4 linked regions of the Homo sapiens genome follow. Changing the gene in region 2 together with the main gene of any one other region gives a genetic interaction. Each region holds a gene or a part of one and is shown on either strand. Other genes may lie near its edges.

Region 1 (4,294 bases), on a different chromosome or scaffold from region 2:
CATTTTTCCTGTCCTTTTTCTTTCTAGACATCTCTTAGGAGGATAGTGGTCCTCTTAGATTGATATGTTATGTCCGTGATTTCCAAAGTAAGATTTGTACTCGTCGTCTGTTAAAAGGAAAAGCATACATATACCCTATGTATATATGCACACTTTTTTATTTTTAAATTATATATGTATCTGTACTAATTATTTACATTGTAAGTCAACCCTAACATAATCTTAAAGGATAAGATACAAAACATACTGCATCTAGAAGCTTCAGTACTTTCTTCCTGAATCCCAGTAGATCCTTTTGTTCATCCCACGGGATGCATTCCGCCCCCATCCTCCCACTCCCTTTGGATACCACATTACCACAGCTCTGCATCACTTAACTTTCCTCTTATGTTTTTCACCTTTTTTTTTTTTTTTTTTTTGCATTTTATGTCCTGGGGAATTTCCTTAATTCATTTCATGGTTTTACTGTTGATTTTTTTAATATTGGCCATCGCAACTTTTCTTTTCTTTTCCTTTCCTTTCCTTTCCTTTCCTTTCCTTTTCTTTTCTTTTCTTTTCTTTTCTTAATTTTCTTTTCTTTTCTTTTCTTTTCTGTTCTTTTCTTTTCTTTTCTTTTCTTTTCTTTCACACAGGATCTTGGCGTGTTGTCCAGGCTGGCCTCGAACTCCTGGGCTCAGGTAATCCTCTCACCTTGGCCTCCCAAAATGCCAGGATTACAGGCGTGCGCCACTGCATTTGGCGGCAACTTAATTTTTTTATTTTTATTTTTCCTTTTAGAGGACACCTAGCACTGAGCATTGCAACTTTTCATTTCCATGAACTTTTAAGAAAACTCTTAAAGACATGTTTAATTCTGTACACTTTCTATTGTTCTTTGATTGCTGTTTTTGAATAACAACAAGGAGTACGCCTTAGCATTTTGATGGTATCCTCTTAATAGTCGCAATAATAGTCCCCTTGGCGCTCTGTATACTCTCAAGTCTTAAATGTTTTGTATGCAGCTGTACGTTGACAGTTGAATGGTCTCGCTCCAAGTGGATCAGCAAGAACATAAAGAATCATTTAACTGGTACAGGCTGCGGCTTGTGAATTCCCTATTAACACCAAAGAAGACGTGTGAGACTCCGTACTGAAACTAAAGACGACTTGTGAGTTCCACACTGAGATCAAATAAGTCTTTATGATGGTGACAGAGAGTGGTGTCAACGCCTAAAGTTTTGGTTAATCTCTCTAAATTGAGGGGCTGACCAAAAGGGGGAACTTAACTGTATTAGACATAATTTTGAGAAACATGGGTATGTGGATGGTAATGGAGGAAATGGGTGTAGATGAGATTGCCTAGGGAGAGTGAGAAGTAGGTTAGGTCTAAGCCTTGATGAGTTCCCAACATTTCCAAGGGTAGTTGAGGATACTGAAAATGAGTGGCCAGTGAGATAGAGGTAAAGCTAGAGACTGCCCAGGGGAGAGGAATTTTCAACAATGAGGAGGTGTCAACATTGTCAGGTATTGCTGAGAGGTCAGATAAAACCAGAATTGAGCAAAATGGCCATTGGAAGCCTATGGTGCCCTCCGTAAGAGCTGTTTCGCTGAAGTGATAGAAACGGAAATCAGGCTGGGCACAGTGGCTCACTCCTGTAATCCCAGCACTTTGGGAGGCCGAGGTGGGCGGATCACCTGAGGTTAGGAGTTCGAGACCAGCCTGGCCAACATGGTGAAACCCTGTCTCTACTAAAAATACAAAAAGTAGCCAGGTGTGGTGGCAGGTCCCTGTAATCCCAGCTACTCAGGAGGCTGAGGCAGGAGAATCGCTTGAGCCCCAGAGGCGGAGGTTGCAGTGAGCAGAGATCGAGCCACTGCACTCCAACCTGGGTGACAGAGCAAGACTCCGTTTCAAAAAAAAAAAAAAAAAAAGAAATGGAAATCAGGATGGTTTGGCTTTTATTTTAATAAAATAGCTAGAGCAGGGAAATGGGGTACTTTTTTTCCCCCTTTTAAGATGAGACATAGCCAGGTGCAGTGGCTTACACCTGTAATCCCAACACTTTGAAAGGGAGGGTCGCTTGAGCTCAGGAGTTTGAGACCAGCCTAGGCAACATAGCAAGACCTTGTCTCTACTAAAATTCAAAAAAAATTAACTGGGCATGCTGGCACACACCTCTAGTCCCAGCTATTTATGAAGCTGAGGCAGGAGGATCACACTTGAGCCCAGATACGTGGGGCTGCAGTGAGCCCTGATAATGCCATTGCACTCCACGTTGGGCAACAGAGCAAGACTTCGTCTCAAAAATAAATAAATACCCTGTCTCAAAAATAAAAAATAAATATGGGAGGAGAGATTTGACTTAGATTCCTCAAAGGGCAGGAGGAAAGAGAATTCCAAACAGTGATTCACCTTTAATGGGAGAAAGATCGCTTAATTTTACATGAGGAAGAAGAGGATTGGTGGAGATACAGTAGGTGAACAGTTTTTGTATGAGGAAGTTGAACATGTGTCATTCTAATAGCTTCCATTCTCTGTGAAGTAGAGGGCAAGGTCATCTACTGAGAGTTGGGGAGGTCAAGAGAGATAAGGGGAGATTAGAAGAGCTCTTCTAGCAGAGAGTGGAAGAATGAATTGCTAAGAGAGATGAAGTAGGATTGTTAAGTAGTTTTGAGGGCCCTGTTGAGATGTGCTTCCAGTTGGGTGTGATTTTCTCCAGTAGTGCTTTATTTCCCTGGGTACAGGCAGAGAGAAAAACAATAAGGCTCATGTAGGGTTTGTATTTTGTTGGACAAGTCAAACAGAAAAGTCAGAGGACGAGGGAGTTTAGAATGTTTGCAAAAGAGTTATTGAAACGATGAACCGCATAATCTAAGGTGGTAAGTGGGTGAATAGATAAGGAGGATGTGAATAGGTAAGGAGAAGAAAGAAATATCAGATTATTGATTATTGATGGCGACTCTCTAATACAGCTATTATGCCATTTTAACCGATTAAGAAACTAAGGCTTTAGAAAATTCATAATTTGCCCTAACTGCACAGCTAGTAAGCAGTGGAAATGTGATTGGAACCAGAGTTCTTCTGACTCAATAGACTAAATGGATGTAAGGATGTAGTTGAAAGAAGGGTGAGCTAAACGTTGTGGAACCATGAGCTCTTTCTCTGGTTGATATCCCTCTCTGTAAGTGATAACATGGGTCACGCTGGATAAAACCTTGTGGTGATTGGTGACTTTCCTTTGTCCTTCCTCCTGTGCCTAGTCTGGCGAGTATCTGCCTTTCCCTTTCCTTTCTCATTGCTGCCACCTAACTTTAGGCTCTTCCCCTTACATCTGGGTAACTGAAATAAGATCACCTTTTTGTTCCCCTTCTGATTTACTTTGACCTAACATTATCTTTACTATTTTCTTTAAATTAATGTTTCATTAGTCTTATTCTACTCAGGAACTCTGTAGTTCCCCATTGCCTACGAAAAAAAGTTAAGCCTCAGCCTTATATTCAGTGACTCTTCAATTGGATATTCAGTCCAGTTTTACTCCTCCTATGAGCCTTCTATGCCAGCTCCTTGGGTCTCTTGCCCTTTCATTGTCTCAGCTCTGCACCCTTCTTTCTCTTTTTTATTCTTTTTTTTTTTTGTACTTTTTTGGTTTTCTTTTTGGTTTCTTTTTTTGTTTTATTTATTAAACCTCCATCACACTTCATCCTATGGAGTTTTGAACCACAGCAAGGTGCAGTATCATCCTGGGGCTCTGGAGGAAGTGGCAGGGAGTCCAAAATGTCACCTTAGCTTCTTATCTGGGGCCACATGTATTTCTGCATCTGCTGCTTCCCACACTCTTGCCCACAAGTGTCGCTTGTGGAAATAATTTGAGATTTACTGTCTGGCTGACCCTAGTTTCAATCTCTTTTCCACCATTTGCTAATCATTCTACCTTGGGCAAAACATAGAATTAAAAGAAAACTTCAGACAAGTTAAATTTGATGGAGTTTAATTGAGCAAAGAAAAAAAATGATCCACAAATTGGGCAGTCTCCAGAATCACCGCAGATTCAGAGAGACTCCAGGGGTGCCTCGTGGTCAGAACAAATTTATAGACAGAAAAGGTAAAGTGACCTACAGGAATCAGAATTGAGACATAGAAACAGTGAGATTGGTTACAGCTCGGCGTTTGCCTTATTTGAACGCAGTTTGAACACTCAGCAGTCTATGAGTGGTTGAAGTATGGCCGCTGGGATTGGCCAACACTCAGCTGTTATTACAGATGCATACTACTAAGTTAGGTTTTCGATTTTGTCTGCCTATTTGAGCTAGGTTA
Region 2 (4,837 bases):
TTACAGCTCCCCGGCTCTTCTGTGTGGCAGAGCGTCGTTTCCGGGCCCTCAGGGCTGGGGAGCTCAGTTCCCATTGCTTGTGCTCAGGGCTGAGTCTTAAAGAAGGGTTTGCCGGCCCTAACGCTGCAGCGCGTGCGCGGTGAGAGGCCCTTTTTGAGCCTGTTTACTCCTGTGGCCTTGGGCAGAACAGTAAATACTCTGTGCACGGAGGAAAGACATGCCCAAGAGGAAGGAAGTACTGACCATCGGCTGCCTGTGAGCAGCTTAGCAAGGAGCCCTTGCTCCCTGGGAAAGGCGGTGAACTTGAGTCTAAAGATGCAGTGCCTGGCCCTTCCTAAGGTCCCTGCCTGGCATCCGAGTGTCGGTGTGTGGCACAGAAGGCTCCTGCTTGCTTCCAAAGTGATGGACAGGAAGGGGCAGAGTGAGTCACGGCCCAGACTGGGCACCTTCGCGTCTCAGCCTCAGGGAGCCCCACAGCCCCAAGCTCGCTGAGGCAACGTGAGAACAGGCTATGGGAAGGCTGCAAAGGCTGAGAAATGCAAAGGCTCATATTTATAAATCCCACCCCCAGAGTGGGGAGGGTCAGGTGCCAGACCTGGACTAAACTGCACCAAGGAAACACCCAGCAGGGTCTCCTGTGAGCCGGGGACCATGCAGCCCGAAACCTCCAGTCACTGCGCCCGGCAGGAGTCAGGAGCCAGGGACTGTGCAGCCTGGAACCTCCAGTCACTGTGCCCAGCAGGGTGGGCTGTGCCCAGCAGGAGTCAGGCTAAGAAACGCCAGGTCTGCCTGTTCTTGCTGGGCAATGGCTGATGGCTGCCAGTTTCTGCTGATACACAGGTAGGATGGGACCCTTCATGAATATCTGACTTTAATAAGTTGGTAAGGATATATTTTTTTGTCTATGTTCTGTTTCAACTTATGTAGATTATTATAAATTGATGTAAACCACGTGAGAGGAAAATGTTAATAAAAAATGCAAAGCCCCATCATTTGCACAAAACTCAGCCCTGTGGTGTGGATGTTTGTGTTCGCGGTGGTCCAGGGAAGCCACCAATGTAAATATTTAACTCTTCCAGCTGCATCCAGATGTGAGTTTCCAGGAATCTGTTTACCTAGTTCACTCCCCTTGAGCCTCCCTGTGGCCCACGGGGGCTGGGGCAGAGCTGCGGGGAGGTGGGCTGGAGCCCTCTCCTTGCTCTTCACAAAGGCCTCCGGATCAGCCAGCATCCAGGCTGCTTCTGGCTCACCTTTGCCATGTGCTGCTACAGTACAAATGTCCCACCTGGCCATCGGTGTGCCTTGAAAGTGGCATGAAGTTGTCCACTGAACAGGAAGCGTCTTCTTTTATGTAAACGCTTCTCTACGCTTTCCTTCAAAGTGGCATATCTTTGAGGCAGCCTTTTGGTCTAATCTGCTTGTCAGAGAAGCTGGGTCTCCGAGGGCCCACCCTCCCTTTGAGAGAGTCAGTGGCGTGAATATTGGCTCCCACCAGCCGAAGCAACTGGACACTGAGTTTATTCTGAAGATCAGGAACAGATGTCTCTGAAAATTGCTGTTTGGTTTATGAGCTCATACTGGCTCCCCAGCCATCGAAAACAGGAAACTATTCATCTCTCGAGTGAATAGGCAGCGTGGACAATGCCTCGCTTACTGAACCGATGGGTACTGACAGCCCTGGCGCTCATCTTTTCCAAGGCTGTTGTGAGGGCAGCATCTCTTGTATTTGGTCCCACGTGCTAGACTGAAAGATGGAAGATCCCAGGCATCCTAGGACTTTGACAGGTACCAGGTGGGAATGTCTGCCCTTGCTTCAGAGTGCTTGTAGGTGTCCTATATTTAGGGACAGCAGAGGAAACAATTTGTTCTGAGCTCTAGGGAACGCTCCAACTGGCCTAGCAGTGATGAAGCCTCCTAGCTGTGAGACTGGGAGGGGCGTTATATAGAATTCACTGTAAAAGGACATGAGCCCTGAGCAGGAACTCACATTCATTCCAAGAAAATGGCAAACATGACCCAAGGAAGGTGTTACCAGCTGGGTTTGACATCATCACTCATGTACAAACACTCGGGCCTCCAGGCCATGTACACTGAGTGTGAACGCTGGTTAAGAGTGTGTGGGCCAGAAGACAGGGCAGATGAGGAAGAAGGCAAAAAAGGAAAGGATAGAGGAATTACCGTATTATAGGAAAAAGGAGACTCATCACCACTGGCTGAAGGTGCCCAGCACTGTGTGGCCCCCACCAAGCGACCTGCCTGTGCCCCACCCAAGAGCAAAGGCCTGACTCCAGCAGTGTCATCCCCCCACAGAGCACCAGGGTAAAGCAGCACCAGTGCTGAAGCCCAACTGTAGACGGATTTTTTTTTTTTTTTTTTTAATATCCATGGCACACAACTAGGCCAAGAAAAATACCACAAGGTCAAGTCGAAAACACGACATGTTAAAACACTTCCTTGACCCTGGAGAACGAGGATGGTGGTGAACAGCCCCTCAGCGACGTCTGATCTTGGCCAGTAGCTGCTGTGACCGAGTCACCAAGATGACCACAGCAGGACCCTTCACATGTGGCCTCAAGCTCGGCCAGGTCCAGCAGTCACGTCGTGAAGGCAGTGTGTGCCTCTCGGCCGGCACAGGAGGGGCCCATCGAGTTCATGGATGGGATTTCACTGCATCCCAGGAAAAGGCTGGGCTGGGCTTCTTGAGGCAGGCCCTGGCAGATGTAATGAGCTTGGTGAGGATGACACAGTCCTCTAACAACCCTGCCTCAGCGCCCCATCCCCCGCTTCCCTGGGAGCTTTCTCATTCTTTCCCTTCAGATGTTATCTTTGGGCCACCCGGCACTATTTTTGGAATAGGGAATTTGAAAATAAAATACAAATAAACCAACCTTTTGAACTGTAAGGTGTGTGGCGGTGGGGGAGGGGAGTGTATTTTTAAAAAAAAAACAAGGATGACAGAACACAAAACAAGTGAGATAATTGGTTGGACGGCATCAGTCCGCCTTGCCCTGCCCTGGTATTCGAGACGGATAGTTGCATGGAGTTCCAAGGTAGAACAGCTTCCTGAGTGCCTGCAGAGACACTGTCACCTCTGTGCCCACAACACCAAACAACCTAGAGGGCCAGCTGTGGTCAGGCCTGAAGCTTTGTGGAGCTGAATTCCTATATGTCAACATCCTGTCTCCCGATCTGCTGTGAGAGAATCTGGCACGGGACGTCCTCTGTGAAGGCTGGCTGGAGTCCAGGAGCAGCAAAGTGTGGCTACCCCAAAGGCTGGAGGCAGAGAAGCCAGGCAGCTCCCTCAGAATACCAACGACATGAGGGAAAATGAATGTCTTCAGGCCCTGAAGCAAGGCCCTGGTGTGGTACAGAAACTGTCCTCCAGAGAGCAGCCCGGATCCGGGGCTGGCATCATCCTTCCCTGCAGGCAATTACTCTCACCGGAGGTAATAATCAATCGCAGCAGAGAAAGCAGCAAAACCTCCACAACCAATGGCCCCAGCCTTTAAGCCAGCTGTCAAACAAACAGAAAGAACATGACCTGTGGTGACAGCTGCTGGGTCACGAGGCACTCACGGAAAGTTGGCACACCCTCAGTGTCATGAAATGAGCTTAAGCACTGTAAGTCATTCAAACGATCATAGCTCTGGAAGACATCAATGAAGCAGTGTATATGATCTAATCCAGTGCGCTTTATCTAACTACATTTGTTTAGCTTTTCTCCTTCAAAGGGTATTTCTAGTCTTAGGGAAATAGCCCCTCGCAGGCAGGAAACTGGTTGAGAGAAGCAGCCCTCGGAATCAAATGAAAGCATATGGCCTTGACCCTGATTTGTTTATGGAATACATTCCTGGGAAGGTGATCAAAGCAGTACTGGAGACAGCAGAGCTTCTCAAAGAGGCCCTGGTGAAGCTGAACAATGGGACGACCGGCGGAGAAGTCAGTCCGTCATCATAAATGGTGCTTGAGGAGCAAAACCAGGTTTCATGACAGCAAATCATCCTGTCTCTCAGAAGATGAGAAAACTGGCTTTTTGCTCTGGGTAAGTTAGGGCATGACAGATGGAAAGTGGCCCAGTGATAAAACACTGCTGCTTCTAGGAAAGTCAAGTCACCAAGGCCCTCCACCACGCTCTGAATGGACATGCCAACGGGGAGAAGAGGCAGCAAATTGGTTTTCTTTTTTTTTTTTTTTTTGCAGCTGATAATCTAATATTTCTAGAATATCTGTACTTAGCATTCAATGGGTAGAAATCAGAATCCCCAAGGGCAGAAAGATATTACCATTATAATTTATATCTAAAATTAAAAGACAATTGTCTAGAATTACTGAGAAAAATGTTGGCCACACGTGGTGGCTCATGCCTGTAATCCCAGCACTTTGGGAGGCTGAGGCAGGCAGATCACGAGGTCAGGAGTTCGAGACCAGGTGAAATTGATCTCTACTAAAAAAATAAAAATTAGCTGAGCATGGTGGCGGGTGCCTGTAATCCCAGCTACCTGGGAAGCTGAGGCAGGGGAATCGCTTGAACCCAGGAGGTGGAGGTTGCAGTGAGCTGACATCGTGCCACTGCACTCCAGCCTGGGCGACAGAGTGAGATTCGGTCTCTTTAAAAAAAAAAAAGTTGTTACAACGGACGGGGGTGCTACTTGCATCTCGTGGGTAGAGGCCAGGGATACTGCTCAACGTCTTAGAATGCACAAAACAGACCCAATCCCGACAAAGATTCGTCTGGTCGAAATGTCAGTAGTGCCAACGATGGGAAACCCTCATCTAGATCCTACAAGTTTCCAAAACCGAGTTACCACAGAAACAAACATGATTTATTTGTCAGAGG
Region 3 (5,072 bases), on a different chromosome or scaffold from region 2:
CGAATGGCTCAGAAAACTGAAAGGTTCTGCGGACGTTTAGAGCAAGCTATTTGATGGCAAAACCTGACTAAACAGATCAGGGCAGTGAGTCTTCATGCTCATGCTCAGTGAAACATCAGGTTTGGCTGCAGAAACGCTAGTGTGTCTGATTACAGAGACCCAGCTGGAAGTGTTACTCTCTAAAATCTCACAAGAACCAGGCTTTGCGGGATTCCAGGAAGGGACTGGGGCTCATTTCACTCACAAGCTCTGTTCAGCCGAGTAGCTGCCACACAGCAGGAGCTGGGCCAGGGCCTTGGGACACAAGGACAAAAACGCTAGTCTCCGCCCTGAAGGGCTCCGTACATAGGCCAGAAGCCGCACCTGCAATGTATGTGGATTTATAAGGAGGTGCCGAGGACGACCCATACCTGGTTTACGGTGAATCCATGGATCTTGTCTCCTAGTTTATACTGCAGAGCCCTCTCACAAGCCCGGTTACTGTTCCATCGCCACGCTCTGTGGTGTGCATGTCTAGATTAAAAGTCATCTAAGTTAGATGAGTTGCAGGAAAAGTATCTGGCTAACATTATTCAGCCACATAGTGAAAATACTCTCATGTAATAAAGATTATTAAAGAAAAATTAAATATTGCATCTTCCAAAGTCTTGCACATTCCAGAAAACTGATTTCTGGTAAGGTCCTTTCCATTTTAATGATCTTTATCTTAACTAAAGCTTCAATGTTGGAAACCTTTTCTTTACACTTGTTCACAAATAACTATAATACAATTACAGTTTAAATTCCCCTTGTTTAAGAGACAACTCTTAAACAAAAGGGCTTCTTTCCTTCACAGAATCCTCAAAAGCCTTCACAGTATACCAAGAAATTCACACTACAGTTAAATCCCATTACATGCCTACCGAATTGCTGAAAACTTAAAAAGCCTAATATTACCGGGAACTCTCATACACTGCTACAGGGAGTACAAAGTGGAATAACTTTGGAAAAGCACTTGGCATTCTTTAGAAAGGCTGAAGAGGCCGGGCGTGGTGGCTTACGTCTGTAATCCCAGCACTTTGGGAGGCCTGGGTGGGCGGATCACCTGAGGTCAGGAGTTCGAGACCAGCCTGGCCAAAAATTAGCCTGATGTGGTGGCAGGTGCCTGTAGTCCCAGATACTTGGGAGGCTGAGGCAGGAGAATCGCTTGAACCCGGGAAGTGGAGGCTGCAGTGGGCCGAGATCACGCCACTGCACTCCAGCCTGGGTGACAGAGCAAGACTGTCGGAAAAAAAAGAAAAAAATGCTGAAGATTGGAAATCCATTCACCTCTTGGTCTCTATCGTCCACACCTTACACTGCGGCCCCAGCACTCACAGACAAAAATGTCAGCACGAACCCTGACAGTCCCAAACTCAACTCACCCGGAGGTGTATCGACAGAGAATGGATAAAGTGCGGACTAATCGTTCAATTAAAAAAAAAAAAAAAAAAAAAAAAAAAAAAAAAAAAACCTTACCAATATAAGGGCCTACAGTGGCATGTAACAAAGATATGGGTCACATAACGTGAAACAAAAGATACACATGATACAGTATTATCCTAAACAGGTATTATTCAAATAGGTAACAAGACATTGTCAGAACGCATAAAAATGGTAAAATATTAAAAAAAAAAAAAGCAAGGACATTTCTGTATGTTATGACCGTGATAATCTAAGAGGGAGGGAGAGAGTTACGAGCAGTTAGGGGAATCTTCAACTTGGTCACAGGGACACTAATTTTCTTTTTTGAGACAGATCTCACTCTGTTGCCCAGGCTGGAGTGCAGCGGTGCAATCTCGACTCACTGCAACCTCCACCTCCCGGGTTCAAGCAATTCTGTCTCAGCCTCCTGAGTGGCTGGGACTACAAGTGCTCACTACTACGCCCAGCTAATTTTTGTATTTTTAGTAGAGACAGTTTCACCATGTCGGCCAGGCTGGTCTTGAACTCCTGACCTCAAGTGGTCTGCCCGCCTTGGCCTCCCAACATGCTGGGATTACAGGTGTGAGCCACCGCGCCCAACCTATTTCTAATAATTATTCTCACCTGAATGAGATGGCTCACACCTGTAACCCCGCAATGCGAGAGGCTGAGGAGGGGGATCAAACCAGCCTGGGAAACAGAGCAAGATCCCTGCTCTTAAAAAACACGTAATTATTATTCTCTCCAATTGTATTATATGTCGTATGGGATTTTCTACATTAATGTATCCCACCGAAATATTTATTTTAAAGATAATATGTACAGGAAGAAAAAACCTATTCAGTCACTGGCAATATTATGAAGATATGCTATAACCAACATTTGCTTACTGATTTAGCAAATTTCAGAATTATGGGACAGAAGCGTTTTAAGAAGTTACTTATCAAGGACATGATAGGAAACTCCTGAGCGGTAAGGCCAGGCCGAACTCATGCCACGGACGCCCCGTGCCTCCCGGCCTGGGCCGGCAGCGCTGAACTATTACCTTATATTAAACACGGGCTCGTGGATTACCATGAACACTAAACTGCTTCGTCATTTTTTTCCCCATAAATTGAGTCATTAAAAAAACAAAACAGTTCAATTCCGGGAGGCGTCAGTTCTCTGAACACAGCGAGACTTTAAGTATGGGCTGTGGGCGCCTCGGGTCTCTTAAGGACTCGGCCTCCCAACAAAAATGAACTAGGAGCAAAGCTGTCAGCGAGAACCGCAAATGCCGACCCCATTTACTACCCCCGTTAAAGCCCACGCTAATGGAGGGCCCCGCCGGGAGCGCCGCGGGCAGGCCCGGCCCCCAGCCCGGGGCATCGCCCCTGGGAGTAGGAAGGAGCTCCGAGGTCCTCCGGCCTCGGAGCCTCGGATGCGGGAGCTCCAGGAAGGGCTCGGGGTGCGGGACGCCCACAGCTTGGGGAGCTGCCAGCCCCGGGCGCAGGGACGAGGACCCCTACGCCTCCGGCCTGCCCTGGACCCTCCCCTCCCGGGTACCAGCGCGCCGAGCGCCTCCCGTCGCAGCGTCTCACCCGCCGCTCAGCCGCCTCAGCACACACAGGCCCTGCCGCCCGCCGCAGCGCCACATTGCGCATGACGAGCACCTGGCTGGCGAGGAACCCCCTCTTAACCCGACGCAGGGCGCGGGGCGGGGCTTGCCGTGACAGCTACCACTCCTATTGGTCAACGCGAACAGCGACGTCCTCTGCGATAGGCTGTAGGTGAAAAGGGTAGGCCTCCACTGCTCTGGGACGGGCGGGAGGGCGGTGCGGACGGAGATGGGCGGGAGGGGCGGGGCCGACGTGCCGAAGGAGGCGGGCAAGGCGAGGGGCGTGGTACGGGTAGAAAGGGGCGGGGCCGTCTTGCCGAAAGGGGCGGGGTTCGGCCAGCAGCAGGATGTGGACAGATGATAGGAGGGGGAAGTGGGCAGGCGAGAAGTGGGGCGTGGCGAGAGGCGTGTGTATGCAGATGAAGTGGGGCCTGGTGAAGGGCGGGGCTGCGCTGGTGAAAAGAGGGGCTCCTGGAATGGCGTGCTGTGTTGGGTGGGGCTGTGCAAGTGATGGGAGGGGCTTAGCGAGGGGTGGCTCTTTGCAGGTGAGGAGTGGAGACCAGTGGGAGAGGGGATTGCAAGTGAGCTGAGCCTTGGGGGCGGGGCTTGCAGGTGACAGGGTGGAGCCTAGTGGGCGGGGATGCAAGTGAGCTGGGCCTTGGGGATGGGGCTTGCAGGCGATGGGGTGGAGCCTGGTGGGGCGGGGCTGCAGGTGAGCTGGGCCTTGGGGGCGGGGCTTGCATGCGAGAGGTGGGTCCTTGTGGGGGCAGGGCTGGCAGAAGTGGGTGGGGCTTGGTGATGGACCGCGGTGTTCAGGTGAGGGTAGTGGCCTGGTTGGGGGCTGCCGGAAGCTGGGCCAGGTGAAACTTGGTAGCCCTCTCTGGCCTTGGTGTGGGCGTTGGTCCTGTTTGTAGGGCTGAGCTGAGCTCCAAAGGCGTTCTGCTGCCCCGCCAGGCCTGAACCTTGGGGTCTGGGGGCTTCTTGGATGAGATCTCAAGGCTGCATGGCAGGTCCCAGGGCCAGGGCCCCACGGTGTCACACGTATCACGGATGGCCGCCAGCGAAGCACAGCACAGCTCCGAGCTGCTGCATGGGAGCCTGTGGCCCCCGCTGCTGCCTCCGCTTTCCTCTTCGTTTCGTGTCTAGGAAGATGCACCTGAGCCCCCTGACATTGCCCAAGTGCCCAAGGGCCCTTCTGGGAACCCCCAGAGAGGCTGAAGGAGGCCCCCGTAGGAGTGGGTGGTTCTGCACTGTGGGCCAGAAGGGGCCCTGGGATTAGCCACGCTTGGAGAGGGTGGGGTAGCCCTTGGAGGAAGTCCGCACCAAGTCTGACCTTCCGGGTTTCTCAGAGCCTCTCTTCCTTCCTCCCTTCACCTTCTCCCTCTTTTTTTCCCCTTGTATCACGAATACAAACAGGCTCAAATCTCCCTCTGTCTCCTAATGGGCTCTGAAAAAAAAAATTAAAAATTAAATGGTAAGTAGATGGCTGCAGTCGGCTTGAACAAGCTAAAACTTTGGAAGCAATGTGGAAGGTAATACTGTGGGAAAAAGTCCCAACGTGTCTACCCTAAACTCTCCATAGGGCAGCCAGTTCTGGGCTGCAGGTAAACACGTACCTCCTTATTGAAGAGCCCAAAGGAACCAGAACACAGGCAATAATAGGAGCGACAGACACAAACACGCTCTGCGCATCACCCGTCTTCTAGGGAGAATTTGGGTGTGTGCACACAAAATATCCGATCTAGGTCTCAATCAATTTAGAAAGTTAATTTTGCCAAGGTTAAGGGCATGCCCATGACACAGCCCCAGGAGGTCCAGATGACATGTGGCCAACATGGTCGTGGCACAACTTTTTTTTTTTTTTTTTTTTAATACCGTGTCTCACTCTGTCGCCCTGGCTGGATTGCAGTGGCGCAATCTTGGCTCAGTGCAACCTCAGCCTCCCGGGCTCAAGCGAGTCTCCTGCTTCAGCTTCCCGAGTAGCTGGGATTACAGGCACCCACCACTATGCCCAGCTAATTTTTTTTTTTTT
Region 4 (3,500 bases), on a different chromosome or scaffold from region 2:
TAAATGAGCTAATCTTTGTCCAATGTTTAATGTTATGCCTCACAGAGAGGGTAGTAAATGCTATTATTACACAAAATTTAAAAGATTTTGATACATGTCATCAAATTATACTCTAAAAGCAGACCCTTTCATAACCTTGGGCAAGCTCGTTTTATTCAAATCTGCAATGTGATTTACATTTCTTTGACCATTTGTAAAGCTGAACTTTCCCCGTACTTTTGACCATTTTTTGGTCCTTCTGCGAGTTGCCTACTGATAACCTGACTTGTTTTCTCCTAAAGTATTCAACTTTTTCTTACTGATCCGTAAGATCACTTCAAATATCAGCATTGGTCCTTTGTAATACATGACATAAATGTATTCCACAGTTTGTTTGCCTTTTAATTTTACTTTGTTTTTAGTTTTTGATATATAAAATTTAGGTAGTCAAATCTATTAGTATTCATGGTTTCCTACAACACCAAGAGTGAACCCTAATGTAAACTATGGGTGGTAATGACATATTCACGTCGGTTCATCATTGTAAGGGGGGAAATCTCCGTACCTTCTTAATTTTGCTGTGAATCTAAAACTGCTCTAATAAAGTATTTAAAAAATAAAAAATAAAGGTGTTACTGTTACATAAAAAATATTCATGGTTTCTACTATTCGCTCTATGTCTTCCTCATTCTGTGCTCATAAAAATGATAACATGGGTCTTTTCTTTCAAGGCCTTTTATGGTTTCAAGTTTTAATTTTAATTCAACTGGAATTTATTTTTATGGACACAGAAATCTCATCTAAAAAGCTTCCTTTAGTAACTGAAGATTCAAACAATGCTGCTTGAATCATTTTCTAAATTCCATTAATTCCAAGTGTCCTTTCTCTAGTTAAGAAACTAGTTATAATCATTTTTGTTGTTGTTGTTGTTTTATTTTATTTTATTTATATATTTTTTTGAGACGAGTCTCGCTGTGTCGCCCAGGCTGGAGTGCAGTCGCGCGATCTCGGCTCACTGCAAGCTCCGCCTCCCGGGTTCATCTCATTCTCCTGCTTCAGCCTCCACAGTAGCTGGGACTACATGCGTCCGCCACCACGCCCGGCTAATTTTTATTTATTTATTTATTTTGTATTTTTAGTAAAGACAGGGTTTCACCATGTTAGCCAGGATGGTCTCGATCTCCTGACCTCGTGATCCACCCACCCTGGCCTCCCAAAGTGCTGGGATTTCACTCTTGTTGCCCAGGCTGGAGTGCAATGGTGTGATCTTGGCTCACTACAACCTCCGCCTCCCAGGTTCAGGCAGTTCTCCTGCTTCAGCCTCCCAAATAGCTGGGACTACAGGCACACGCCACTACACCCGGCTAATTTTGTATTTTTAGTAGGGACGGGGTTTCACCATGTTGCCCAGGCTGGTCTCGAACTCCTGACCTCAGGTGATCCACCCACCTCGGCCTCCCAAAGTGCTGGGACTACAGGCGTGAGCCACTGAGCCCGGCCGAAACTAGTTATAATCATTTTTAATGTGTGCATAATATCTAATTGAATGACAATCCAATAATTTAACCATTCCTCAATTAGATATTTTGGTTGCTTTTAATTCTTCATAATAATAAATAATGTTAGGCTAAAGAGCTTAATGAATACTATTTTTTCTATATTTGAAAGTGTTTCCTTAAGCTAGAGTCCCAGATGTGGAGGTAAAGAGTCAAAGGAAATGGATATGTTTATAATGTTCATTATCTGAAATTCTCTTTACTTGGACCCTATTGAGCAACTTTTCTCAAGAACTTCTATGTCCCTTTTTATATACCTGCTCCATTCCTAAGTTGTCAGACATCTTTCCAGTATTATACTTTTCTCTGACCCCTCTCTAAATTTACATACTTAAGACTGTCATACATACCCTCTATATCACAAAATATCCTGCTTACCTTACCTTTATTTCAAATAAATCAGTAAGCTTGGTCCAATAGGATATTTCTTCCTTCTCTTTATTATTTTCTGCATGTACTAGTGAGTGAGATAAAGTAAGAATTTGAATGTGTGATAATACCAACAGATGGTAGGTCTTATTTGCTGGCAACAGTACACGATTGCCCATCTGTCTCTGCCATGATTCACACAGGGTATCAGATGTACCAGAATACTGAATACAGAATACTTTCAACAACACAGAGTGCCATGGTTTGGAGAATTAATACTGAACAAGGCTGTCAGGAATTATAGAGTAAACAGAAAGTATGTTACTTAAGCTACAAGAGCTCATGTCAAAGTCAGGATTCATAACATTCTTAAACTTATACATGAATATGCATGGTGGGCTCCAGAGGGCAGCTGACTTCTTAATGGTTCCAAAGCACGGATCTCCTAATAGAGCTGACATTTTTGTGAGTACTATGAATAAACTGAGTGGCAAAGAGAAGAAATAATTTCTTCTCTAAACAACGTTTTGCCATTCTAATTCTAGCAGGCAGATAAGCCAGTGATCATATTTTCTCCAACTGGCTTCTTTCTCTCTTACCCTCTTTCTTGTTGAACAAGAACCAATTGTGTAACCTGAGAGTCATCCTAAACTTTTCCTTCTCCCTCCAGCCTCACATTTAATTAATCACCAATGTCTGAGAATTCCACTCCAAAAGCTTACTTGAATCCATCCCCTTCATTCTCCTTGCCACTAATTTTATATCTTTATCACTTCTAAAATAAATTACTGCTCTTAAATGATCTCCACATCTTCACTCTAATGACTTTGGTCCATTTTGTACAGACTTGCTACCTACAGGTAAAACATAAACTTCATAACCTAGACCCTACCTGTATCTCCCACCTTATATCCTGCACTATCCTGTTCTCTTGCCTCCAGTCCCACCTATCCTCCCACCATATACCTAGAGGTTTAAAACTGTAAGTAAAATTACTTATAGTTCCTTGAAGAATTATTTGTCTCTCTTAAAAGTAGAGCATAGGCCGAGCGCAGTGGCTCATGCCTATAATCCCAGCCCTTTGGGAGGCCAAGGCGGGTGGATCATCTGAGGTCGGAAGTTCAAGACCAGCCTGATCAACATGGAGAAACCCCGTCTCTACTAAAAGTACAAAATTAGCCAGGCGTGGTGGTGCATGCCTGTAATCCCAGCTACTCAGGAGGCTGAGGCAGGAGAATCGCTCGAACCCGCGAGGCGGAGGTTGTGGTGAGCTGAGATCGCGCCATTGCACTCCAGCCTGGGCAGCAAGAGCAAAACTCCGTCTCAAATAATAATAATAATGATAATAAAATAATAATAGAGCATAATGTCTATAGGCTGTAAGATCAGTGATGATGGATCTACTAGTTATGAGCTGTGACCACAGGCAAGTGACTTAACGTGTCTGTGCCTTGATTTTCTCATCTGTAAGGCAGGGAATGTTTGCTGAAGAAAGAAATAATTTCTTCTGAGGCCTCACCTGCTAAATCTTTTTAATCTCTAAAAAAGAGCTATGGCCATAGGAGAGATTATTGTTCTCTACAAATGACTTCTAAA

What was found.
Region 1: changes in TIMM22 (region 2) and OPA1 together harm fitness more than expected from each alone (negative genetic interaction), as found in Homo sapiens cells (one large-scale study listed by BioGRID).
Region 3: changes in TIMM22 (region 2) and PITRM1 together harm fitness more than expected from each alone (negative genetic interaction), as found in Homo sapiens cells (one large-scale study listed by BioGRID).
Region 4: changes in TIMM22 (region 2) and MBTPS2 together harm fitness less than expected from each alone (positive genetic interaction), as found in Homo sapiens cells (one large-scale study listed by BioGRID).

Annotation. Positions count from the first base shown.
Region 1 is NC_000003.12:193,595,799-193,600,092, forward strand, and holds part of OPA1 (dynamin-like GTPase OPA1, mitochondrial), read left to right. Parts: intron 1-4,294. UniProt on the Homo sapiens protein: Dynamin-related GTPase that is essential for normal mitochondrial morphology by mediating fusion of the mitochondrial inner membranes, regulating cristae morphology and maintaining respiratory chain function.
Region 2 is NC_000017.11:999,689-1,004,525, reverse strand, and holds the end of TIMM22 (mitochondrial import inner membrane translocase subunit Tim22), read right to left. Parts: intron 3,515-4,837; coding exon 3,438-3,514; 3' UTR 855-3,437; downstream 1-854. UniProt on the Homo sapiens protein: Essential core component of the TIM22 complex, a complex that mediates the import and insertion of multi-pass transmembrane proteins into the mitochondrial inner membrane. In the TIM22 complex, it constitutes the voltage-activated and signal-gated channel.
Region 3 is NC_000010.11:3,169,694-3,174,765, forward strand, and holds the start of PITRM1 (presequence protease, mitochondrial isoform 2 precursor), read right to left. Parts: upstream 3,090-5,072; 5' UTR 3,087-3,089; coding exon of another isoform or gene 3,080-3,086; coding exon 3,024-3,079; exon of another isoform or gene 2,521-3,023; coding exon of another isoform or gene 2,489-2,520; intron 514-2,488; coding exon 411-513; intron 1-410. UniProt on the Homo sapiens protein: Metalloendopeptidase of the mitochondrial matrix that functions in peptide cleavage and degradation rather than in protein processing. Has an ATP-independent activity. Specifically cleaves peptides in the range of 5 to 65 residues.
Region 4 is NC_000023.11:21,846,117-21,849,616, reverse strand, and holds part of MBTPS2 (membrane-bound transcription factor site-2 protease), read right to left. Parts: intron 1-3,500. UniProt on the Homo sapiens protein: Zinc metalloprotease that mediates intramembrane proteolysis of proteins such as ATF6, ATF6B, SREBF1/SREBP1 and SREBF2/SREBP2.